2 separate regions of the Homo sapiens genome follow, and region 1 is linked to region 2. Evidence: fine-mapped expression QTL. A gene starts in region 2. The other region holds a variant in brackets. All regions are shown on one strand. Distances are from middle to middle. Region 1 overlaps LOC107985694 (a long non-coding RNA gene). Region 2 holds the start of RNF113A (ring finger protein 113A).

The links.
Region 1: its variant is fine-mapped to the expression of RNF113A in sigmoid colon (GTEx, PIP 0.92).

Annotation. Positions count from the first base shown.
Region 1 is chrX:119,801,919-119,807,293 of GRCh38, forward strand. LOC107985694 (a long non-coding RNA gene) reads left to right here. Exons shown (of 3, transcript XR_001755949.2): 3 at 3,461-5,375. It also overlaps a transcript of UPF3B not described here. Among named protein-coding and RNA genes, the nearest start is that of RPL39, 13 kb to the left of the region's middle. The variant G/T (reference allele first, on the strand shown) is at 3,024.
Region 2 is chrX:119,868,538-119,873,912 of GRCh38, forward strand. It overlaps RNF113A (ring finger protein 113A), which reads right to left and starts at 3,196. Exons shown (of 1, transcript NM_006978.3): 1 at 1,938-3,196. The coding sequence starts at 3,076. The coding sequence ends at 2,045. It overlaps NDUFA1 (NADH:ubiquinone oxidoreductase subunit A1), which reads left to right and starts at 3,295. Exons shown (of 3, transcript NM_004541.4): 1 at 3,295-3,476; 2 at 4,767-4,856. The coding sequence starts at 3,375. RefSeq lists an enhancer at 2,909-3,618.

The DNA.
Region 1 (5,375 bases), 67 kb before region 2:
CTTTCCCTCCCTCCCTCCTTCTTTCTTTTTTCTTTCTCCTTCCTTCTTTCCTTATTTCCTTTTCCTTCCTTCCTTCTTCTCTTTCCCTTCCTTTCTCCCTCCCTCCCTTTTCTTTCTCTTTTCTTTCCTTCCTTTCTCTTTCTCCTTCCTTCCTCCTCCTTTTTCTCTTTCTCCCTTTCTCTCCTTCCTTCCTTCTTTCCTTTTTTCCTTCCTTCCTTTCTTCCCTCCCTCCCTCCCTCCCTTTTCTTTCTTTCCCTTCCTCCCTCCCTCCCTTTCTTTCCTCTTTTCTTTCTTTTTCCTTCCTTCCTTCCTTTCCATTTTTTTCCTCCTTCCTTTCTTTCTTCTTGACAGAGTCTTGCTCTCTTGCCCAGGCTGGAGTGCACTGGTGTGATCTTGGCTCACTGCAACCTCTGCCTCCTGGGTTCAAGCAATTCTCCTGACACAGCCTCCTGAGTAGCTGGGACCACAGGCTTGTGCCAACACGCCTGGCTGACTTTTGTATTTTTAATATTTTTTCTTTTTTTTTTTTTTTGGTGTTTATTTTTTTGAGACAGAGTCTCAGTCTGTCACCCAGGCAGCAGTGCAGTGGCGCGATCTTGGCTCACTGCAACCTCCATCTCTCAGGTTCAAGCAATTCTCCTGCCTCAGCCTCCCAAGTAGCTTGGATTGCAGATGTGCACTACCACGCCCGGCTAATTTTTGTATTTTTAGTAGGGGTGGGGTTTCACCATGTTGGCCAAGCTGGTCTTGAAGTCCTGACCTCAAGTGATCCTCCCGCCTCGGCCTCCCGAAGTGCTGGCATTTCAAGCATGAGCCACCACGCCCAGCCGTATTTTTAGTGGCCAACCTTGCTGGCCACTCCTCCTCCTTGAAACACTTTTCTCTTGGATTAAGTAACACCGGAGTCTTCTGGTATTTCTCCTACTCTGGCTATTCTTTCTGTCTTTGTAGATACATTTCCTTACCTCTGTGTAATGTTAAGAGTTCTTTAAGGCTGGGCCCTAGGTCTGCTTCTGTTCCTACTTCACTCTCTCCCCATAAAGTGACAGAATCCATGGTCATGACTTCAATGGACCCCTAAAAATGGATGAATTCCAAATCCATACATCCATTTCCCACCTGCCATTCACCCCTCACTATAACATGGTTTCTATCTCTTTTAGGTCATCAGTTTCATTAGTTCACTAATGAAATCACGACTGCCAAATCCAATGAACACTTCCATTTCTTGTCTTCCTTAATCTCTCTGTGGCATGGGACAATGTCAGCCAATCTCCTTCTTGAAATTTTCCCTTCCCTTAATCCTCTCGCCCATCTGACAGTCATTCACTTTCAATCATTTTTGGTGGCTCTTGTACCTCCCTCTTGGGCTACTTGTTTCTAAAAGCTGAGGAAACAAAGTTATTTAGAAAGTAAAGGCAAAGTGATGCCATGTTAGGAAGGGCTGGCAGAATGAATGAAAATCAGGCAAAAGCTCAAGGATGTTGTCTAAACATTTTGTTCTTAAGGGACCAGAATAGTTGATGTGGTTTGGATATTTGTCCCCACCCAAATCTCATGGAAATATAATCCCCAGTGTTGTAGGTGGGGCCTGGTGGGGTGTTGGGGTTATGGGGCAGATCCCTCATGGCTTGGTGCTGTCCTCTCCATAGTGAGTTTTACAGAGCTGGTTGTTGTAAAGTGTGGCACCTCCTCCCCGCACTCACTCTCTTGCTCACTCTGTGATGTGGGATGTCTTCTGCTTCACTTTCCACCATGAGTAAAAGCTCCCTGAGGCTTTCCCAAAACTCGAGCAGATACCAGTGCCACACTTCCTGTACAGCCTGCAGAACTGGGAGCCAATTAAATCTCTTTTCTTATAAATTATCCAGTCTCAGGTATTTATTTATTTATTTATTTATTTATTTTTCTGAGGCAGAGTCTCATTCTGTTGCCCAGGCTGGAGTGCAGTGGTGTGATCTCGGCTCATTGCAGCCTCCACCTTCCTGGGTTCAAGTGATTCTCCTGCCTCAGCCTCCTGAGCAGCTGGGATTACAGGCACCTGCCACCATGCCTGGCTAATTTTTGTATTTTTAGTAGAGATGGGGTTTCATCATTTTGGCCAGGCTGGTCTCAAACTCCTGACCTCAAGTGATCCGCCCATCTCAGCCTTCCAAAGTGTTGGGATTACAGGCGGGAGCCACTGCACCTGGCCAGGTATTTTTTTTTTTTCTTTTTTTGAGATGGAGTCTCACTCTGTCACCCAGACTGGAGTACAGTGGCACAATCTCGGCTCACTGCAACCTCCACCTCCCTGGTTCAAGTGATTCTTCTGCCTCCGCCTTCTGAGTAGCTGGGGACTACAGGCGTGTGCCACCACGCCCAGCTAATTTTTTGTATTTTTAGTAGAGATGTGGTTTCACCATGTTGGCCAGGCTGGTCTCAAACTCCTAACCTCGTGATCCACCCACCTCAGCCTCCCAAAATGCTGGGATTACAGGCATATGCCACTGCCCCCAGCCCCGGCCAGGTATTTCTTTATAATAATGTAAGAACAGCCTGTATTAGTTCGTTTTCACACTGCTGATAAAGACATACCCGAGGCCAGGAGTGGTGGCTCATGCCTGTAATCCCAGCACTTTGGGAGGCCGAGGCAGTGGATCACCTGAGGTCGGGAGTTCAAGACCAGCCTGGCCAACATGGTGAATTCCCATCTCTACTAAAAATACGAAATTTAGCCAGGCACGGTGGCGGATGGCTGTAATCTCAGCTACTAGGGAGGCTGAGGCAGGAGAATTGCTTGAATCTGGGAGGTGGAGGTTTCAGTGAGTTGAGATCACGCCACTGCACTCCAGCCTGGGTGACAGAGTAAGACCTTGTCTCAAAAAAAAAAAAAAAAAAAAAAAAAGACATACCCGAAACTGGGATGGAAAAGAGGCTTTAATGGACTCACAGTTCCACATGGGTAGGGAGGCCCCACAATTATGGCAGAAGGCAAGGAGGAGCAAGTCATGTCTTACATGGATGGCAGCAGGACAAAAAGA[G/T]CTTGTGCCGGGGAACTCCTCTTTATGAAACCATCAGATCTTGTGAGACTTCTTCACTATCATGGGAACAGCACAGGAAAGACCTGCCCCATTATTCAATTACCTCTCACTGGGTCCCTCACACAACATGTAGGAATTCAAGATGAGATGTGGGTGGGGGCACAGCCAAAAAACATCAGGCCTAATATAGGAGTGAACCATGAACTGATTTTTCCCTGGTAGACAAAACAAAGGCATGCCAGTGAAAGCAGAAACTAATATCATTCATGCACTTTTGAAATTCTCCAGAGGTTAATTCAGTATCAAAAATTTAATTTCTCAAATATAACAGCTATTTAGTGAAGTTAATAAACACACTTAGCTTCATACTTGAATGTTGTTACTATTTATTGACATCAAAACAAAACAAGCTGAGACTAAAAGTTGCTATTTAACAGGAACAGACATTGATGCAGTTTCCTTCCTGGAGAGGGTACACACTCAGATCATGAGACCTAAGATAAAACACACACTGGATTGTCAAGAATCAAACAAGGACTACCAATGGGATCTAATTAAACTAAAGAGCTTCTGCACAGCAAAAGAAACTACCATCAGGGTGAACAGGCAACCTACAAAATGGGAGAAAATTTTCGCAACCTACTCATCTGACGAAGGGCTAATATCCAGAATCTACAATGACCTCAAATAAATTTACAAGAAAAAACAACCCCATCAAAAAGTGGGCTAAGGACATGAACAGACACTTCTCAAAAGAAGACATTTATGCAGCCAAAAAACACATGAAAAAATGCTCATCATCCCTGGCCATCAGAGAAATGCAAATCAAAACCACAATGAGATACCATCTCACACCAGTTAGAATGGCAATCATTAAAAAGTCAGGAAACAACAGGTGCTGGAGAGGATGTGGAGAAATAGGAACACTTTTACACTGTTGGTGGGACTGTAAACTAGTTCAACCATTGTGGAAGTCAGTGTGGCGATTCCTCAGGGATCTAGAACTAGAAATACCATTTGACCCAGCCATCCCATTACTGGGTATATACCCAAAGGACTATAAATCATGCTGCTATAAAGACACATGCACACGTATGTTTACTGCGGCATTATTCACAATAGCAAAGACTTGGAACCAACCCAAATGTCCAACAATGATAGACTGGATTAAGAAAATGTGGCACATATACACCATGGAATACTATGCAGCCATAAAAAATGATGAGTTCATGTCCTTTGTAGGGACATGGATGAAACTGGAAATCATCATTCTCAGTAAACTATTGCAAGAACAAAAAACCAAACACCGCATATTCTCACTCATAGGTGGGAATTGAACAATGAGATCACATGGACACAGGAAGGGGAATATCACACTCTGGGGACTGTGGTGGGGTTGGGGGAGGGGGGAGGGATAGCATTGGGAGATATACCTAATGCTAGATGACGAGTTAGTGGGTGCAGCACACCAGCATGGCACATGTATACATATGTAACTAACCTGCACAATGTGCACATGTACCCTAAAACTTAAAGTATAATAAAAAATAAAAAAAGCTGAAGATAAAAGCAGATGTTTGAAAATATTCTTCATGCTAAGCTCATGTAAGCAAACAAAAAACTAAAAGTAATCCTTAAACTTTAGGACATTAGATGCAGAAGTAACATGACTATTTAAATTTTGGCACCAACAAAAGTTTGTTCTATCCTTCACTGTACTTATACTACAAGGACATGCTTGTTGCTTCTACACTTCCCAAAGTCAACAGTTATCATCAACAATGCAATAAAACTAGATTGGAATGGACGGGCACGGTGGCTCATACCTGTAATCCCAGCACTTTGGAAGGCCGAAGCGGGGGGAATCACCTGAGGTCAGGAGTTCAAGACCAGCGTGGCCAACGTGGTGAAACCCCATGTCTACTAAAAATACAAAAATTAGCCAGGCAAGGTGGCGGGCACCTGTAATCCCAGCTACTCGGGAGGCTGAGGCAGGAGAATCAGTTGAACCCAGGAGGTGGAGGTTGCAGTGAACCGACATTGAGCCACTGTACTCCAGGCTGGGCAACAGGGTGAGACCCTGTCTAAAAAAAAAAAAAAAAAAAAAAAAGAAAAAAAAAAAAGAAAATTCAACTCGGGATGAACAACAGCTTTTGATTTTAGAACCAGCTCTTACTTTTCTCTCGTGTCATACGTAATGAAGTCCTCACTTGACATTTCCCTGCAAATTGCAATGCATGTCCTCACCATCAGCTTTTTCTGACACTAAAATTAATTTGTATAAATTGCAAAAGCAATGAAATTGTACTTCCAATTCTGAACCTCTGATCAGATTCCTGCTTTGACACAAGA
Region 2 (5,375 bases):
AGTTCGAGACCAGCTCAGGAGGCTGAGGCAGGAGAATTGCTTGAACCTGGGAGGTGGAGGTTACAGTGAGCTGAGATTATGCCACTGCATTCCAGCCTGGGTGGCACAGCGAGACTCTGTCTCAAAAACAAACAAACAGTCATTATTTAATGTCCAGCTCCATGAGGGCAGGGGCTGTGTCCATCTTGTTCACTGCTAATATCCCCCATGCCAAGCACAGTGCCTGATTTAGAGTAGCTACTCAAAGAATATCTTTAGGCCAGGCGCAGTGGCTCATGCATGTAATCCCAGCACTTTGGGAGGCCGAGGCGGGCGGATCACGAGGTCAGAAGTTCAAGACCAGCCTGACCAATATGGTGAAACCCTGTCTCTACTAAAAATACAGAAATTAGCTGGGTGTGGTGGTGCACGTCTGTAGTCCCAGCTACTCGGGAGGCTGAGGCAGGAGAATTGCTTGAACCTGGGAGGCGGAGGTTGCAATGAGCCAAGATCGCGCCACTGCACTCCAGCCTAGACAACAGAGCAAGACTCTGTCTCAAAAAAAAAAAAAAAGAATATCTTTAAATGGATTAATGAATGTGAATAAAAACCACTAACCCAGAATTTATTCTTGCATCTGTTTCGTGGGATTAGCCCAAATTCTAGCCATATCAATAAAAATTTACTAATCATTTGGCCTAACTGGCCTCCCGGCCTCGTGTTCCATCTCCCTTGTGAGCCATCCTATAGCCGCAACCACAGTAACACTAAAACAAACAAACAAACAAAAAAACCCAAGTCTGATTGTGTTCTCTTCCCAAACCTCTGCTATCTCCCCCGCTGCCTACAGAATACAGTCAACGCTCCTCAGCTTGGATTCAAGGCTTTGGCCCCAATCTCCCTTTTTAAACCTCTCTAGGCTTATTTATTAAGTGCTTATTATATGCCAAGCACTAGGCTAGTCACTGAGTTCATAAACCAGTTGGAGAGACAGGTACATTGACTAATTTTAATAAGGTGTGATCAGCACTATTACAGAGACTGTGAGAACACAGATAGTTTCAGGTAATGGATGATAAAATATTGTTTTTGACCTCTGCAGGTTCACGAGTTCTGTCTACAATAGTAATGTCCAATACAGTGGTCAGACACATTTCAAGTGCTCAATAGCCACCTGGGGCTAGTGTCTGTCACACTGGATAGCTGAGCACAGATACTTTTATCACCCATGGACGTGGGGGTTAACTATAGCTGCTTCCAAGACAGCAAGGGAGCCGGGCTCGGTGGCTCACACCTGTAATCCCAGCACTTTGGGAGGCCAAGGCAGGTGGATCACGAGGCCAGGCGATCGAGACCATCCTGGCTAGTATGGTGAAACCCCGTCTCTACTAAAAATACAAAAAAAAAAAAAAAAAATAGCCGGGTGTGGTGGCATGCGCCTGTAGTCTCAGCTACGCGGGAGGCTGAGGCAGGGGAATCGCTTGAACCGGGGAGGCGGAGGTTGCAGTGAGCTGAGATCGCGCCACTGCACTCTAGCCTGGGCAAGAGAGCGAGACTCCGTCTCAAAAACAAATAAATAAATAAATAACCAAGACAGCAAGGAACATTTCCCATATGTGAAGCCTGTGGTGCTAGCTACCAGTTCCCCAAACACAACCCCTCTCCCCAACACCTTGGCTCGGGTATATTTTGTAGTACAGGCTCCCAAGAGAAAGAATGCATGAAAGTACTTTGTAAACTATTAAGTGATACAGAAATGTGATATAATAAACAGGCTCAGAGGTCTTGCTTTCATCATGGCTTTGGTTACTTCGAGCAAATTATAGCTCTTTTCTCAAACTACTCCCACCCCTATAATTTATGCCAAAGTGTTCTGAAAAGAAACACAGGCAAAATGGTTATCCTAGGGCTAAAAATCCTGATTATACCTACCTTGAAGCTTTTAATCCAGGACCCTACTTCACCACCCGCCTGCTCTGTCACTTTCTCTACAAAGGAAGGACACGAAGTAAGACTTCCAAAAGAACAAAACGTTTATTTTTTAAATTTAAGAATTATGGGAAACCTAAGTAATGGGAATTGCATCCTCATCGGGGTCTTCTGGCAAGTCGGAAGCACCACCCTCTCCTGTAGCTCGATGCTTCTCTAGTTTAGCAATCAATTCTTTCGCTGGATTGAAGACGCCATTGGTCTGCTGGTCACAGACATAGCAGCGCGGGGTGGTGCGGAAATGCTGCAGTGCACAGCTCTCGCAGAAATAATGCCTGCACTTGGTGACAACTGGGTTTTGGAAGCTCTGGCGACAGATGAAACACTTGAATGGTATTTCCTCATCATCGCTTCCCACTTCATAGTTTTCATCCTCATAGACACCATAGCGACCCTCATCAAGCTCACGTTCGATCTGCCACCCATGCTTGTAATCTGAACGGTCATGGAGGAATTTGCAGCTGTCTCCGAAGCCGCAGAAGCCAGTCTCTTTGTAGTCCTTACAGATGTCGGGCTGGTAATCCCAGCGCACGGTGGCACGTAGATGCTCGGGCGCTCGGATGGGGCCCTTCCTCACCATCCCGGAAGAGGCATTGCCCATAGACGTATCCTTGGGCTTCATGTATTTCTGATAATTGTTGATTCCCCGATAGATCTTGTCATCCTCCTTGCCCCTCAGCTCCTCCTGGATCTTCTGGCTGCGCTCAAAGATGGCTTGTGCATCGCGCTCTTTCTCTGTGTCCAGCTCATAGACAGCTGTCGCTCCCATATCCTCTGGTCCCACGGGTTTCGCCGAACGGGTGGATTTATAAACCACGCCGAGACTCTCGGGCTCATTTTCCTCTTCCTCTTCGCTGCTCAAGTCGCCGTAAGCCGCCTTCTGTTTACCACTGTCACGGGTCTTCTGTATCATTGGATTGTGGGTCACCCGCTTCTTTTCCGGTCGAACCACAGTGCAGCCTTCGTCGCTACTGCTGCCGCTTTCTCCGGGCTCTGGGTCGCAGGCCGGGCGCTTTCTGCGTCCAGCAGCCCCTTTCCGCCCAGGCTTTTTGAAAAGGAAGGTGCACACCTGATCCACCGCCTTTCCTGGAGAAAGCTGCTCTGCCATTTTAGAGTCCTGAGCTCCGAAACAGCCGTGGCTGCCTGGGTTGCACTTGGCCCCTGCACGTCACTCCACGTTGCGCGCTCCGCCGGGAGTCGAAGCAAAAGACACTGACGGAAGAGGACTGCGAGAGCCCGAGCGCCCGTCTCTCTTGTGCCCTAGCAGATTCCGTCGCTTCTTCCGGAGCCGTACGTGGCACCGCCCCGCTCGCGGGCGGCCGCGGGGCTTGCTGGGAAGAGAGGCGAAGCCAGGTCACCTTTCAAGGACCCAGAAGTAGGGTTTTGGCCTAGGTAACGGGGCAGAGATGTGGTTCGAGATTCTCCCCGGACTCTCCGTCATGGGCGTGTGCTTGTTGATTCCAGGACTGGCTACTGCGTACATCCACAGGTTCACTAACGGGGGCAAGGTAAGCCGGCTTCGGCCCGGGGGCCGACTCCACGGGCTGATTTCCGAAAAGGGTGGTGGGCAGGGAGACCGTCAGCCTGCGAACCCTCTCTCCGAGGTCGGCCCTCTACTTGCTTCCGGTTGCCTAGAAGCCGAGGCTTGCGAAACGAAGCCCGATAGAAACTACATCCTGCTCTAGTGAAAAACAGCGTTTCTGGGTGTATCAGAGTGGGCCTTAGGGCAGAGTAGCGACGCGGGGGCCGGGAAGGTAGATTAGAAAAGGTGGCTCAAGCCTGAGAATCGCTCACTGCAACCTCCGCCTTCTGGGTTCAAGAGATTCTCCTGGTTGGGCGCGGTGGATCACGCCTGTAATCCCAGCACTTTGGGAGACCGAGGCGAGCGGATCACCTGAGGTCGGGAGTTCGATACCAGCCTGACCAACATGGAGAAACCCCGTCTCTCCTAAAAATACAAAATTAGCTGGGCGTGGTGGCGCATGCCTGTAATCCCAGCTACTCGGGAGGCTGAGGCAGGAGAATCACTTGAACCCAGGAGGCGGAGGTTGCGATGAGCCGAGATCGCGCCACTGCACTCCAGCCTGGGCAACAAGAGCGAAACTCCGTCTCAAAAAAAAATAAATAAAGAAAGAAATTTTCCTGCTTCAGCCTCCCGAGTAGCCGGGACCACGCCTGGCTTTTTTTTTTTTTTTGTAGAGGCGGGGTTTCATCATGTTGGCGAGGCTGGTCTCGAACTTCTGACCTCGGTTGATCCACCCGCCTTGATCTCCCAAAGTGCTGGGATTACAGGCGTGAGCCGCCGCGACCGGCCACCCTTGACTTTTTTATTCCCCACTTTCTCTTGCAAGCCTTTAGGAATTTACTGCGAGATCTTGTTTTTTTACATCAGGATTCATTTTCCCCTCTTCCTAGTCCTTCACATCATCTCAAGAGTACAGGATATAAATTTATTTACTTTTTGATTTTGTTATTGTTCTTCACGTGTGATCTACAGCTGTTGTTTCTTAGTGTCCCAAAAGACAACAACTAGATATTTCTTTTTTTTTTTTTTTAAAAAAAAAGGAAAAAAAATTCATGTTGGTTAAAATAGTGTAAAAAGTCACAGGTACCAACTTAATCCTAAAGTTTAGTGGTCTGATTTTATTTAGGAGATTCTGTTCTTTGTACTACTAATTTGCATTTTTATTTAAACGATGATTCCATTTCTCTGGAATGTCCCTTTTAAAAATTGTAGTATCTATCAATTGGGTCACTCACTTTTATAAACTGCAACAATAATTGTCTCTTATTTGAAGGAAAAAAGGGTTGCTCATTTTGGGTATCACTGGAGTCTGATGGAAAGAGATAGGCGCATCTCTGGAGTTGATCGTTACTATGTGTCAAAGGTAAGATGCCACTCTGATGCCAGCCTTTTGCCAGGGTTGAGGTGGGTTCTGGTAATGCCTTGCCAAGGGTCATACAGTGCTAATATATAACTAGCATTTTCTTATCTACTAGTGAGGTTGGCATCTTTTTACATATTTAATCTTTTATATTTCTTTTTTTTTTTTAGTTTTTCTTCTGTCATATATTTCTTATTCTGTGGATTGTTGCCTATATCCTTTGCCTGTTCCATTGTCTTTTTCTTTTTGAGCTATGGTTCTTTATATATTCTAGACTTTAATTTTTTTGTCTATTTTATATATGACATTTTTCCCAGTCTGCTGTTTGTCTTTTTTACTTTATGATGTTTTTCATCAGGTAGTTCTAAATTTTGATATTCAATGTATCATGTTTTGTTGTTCTGGATTCTAGGTTTTTATGTCTCCCGTACAAAGGCCTTTTCTATCTAAGATTATAAAAATACTTTCAAAAAATAAAATAGAGACAGTCTTGCTGTGTTGCCCAGGCTGGCCCTCAAACTC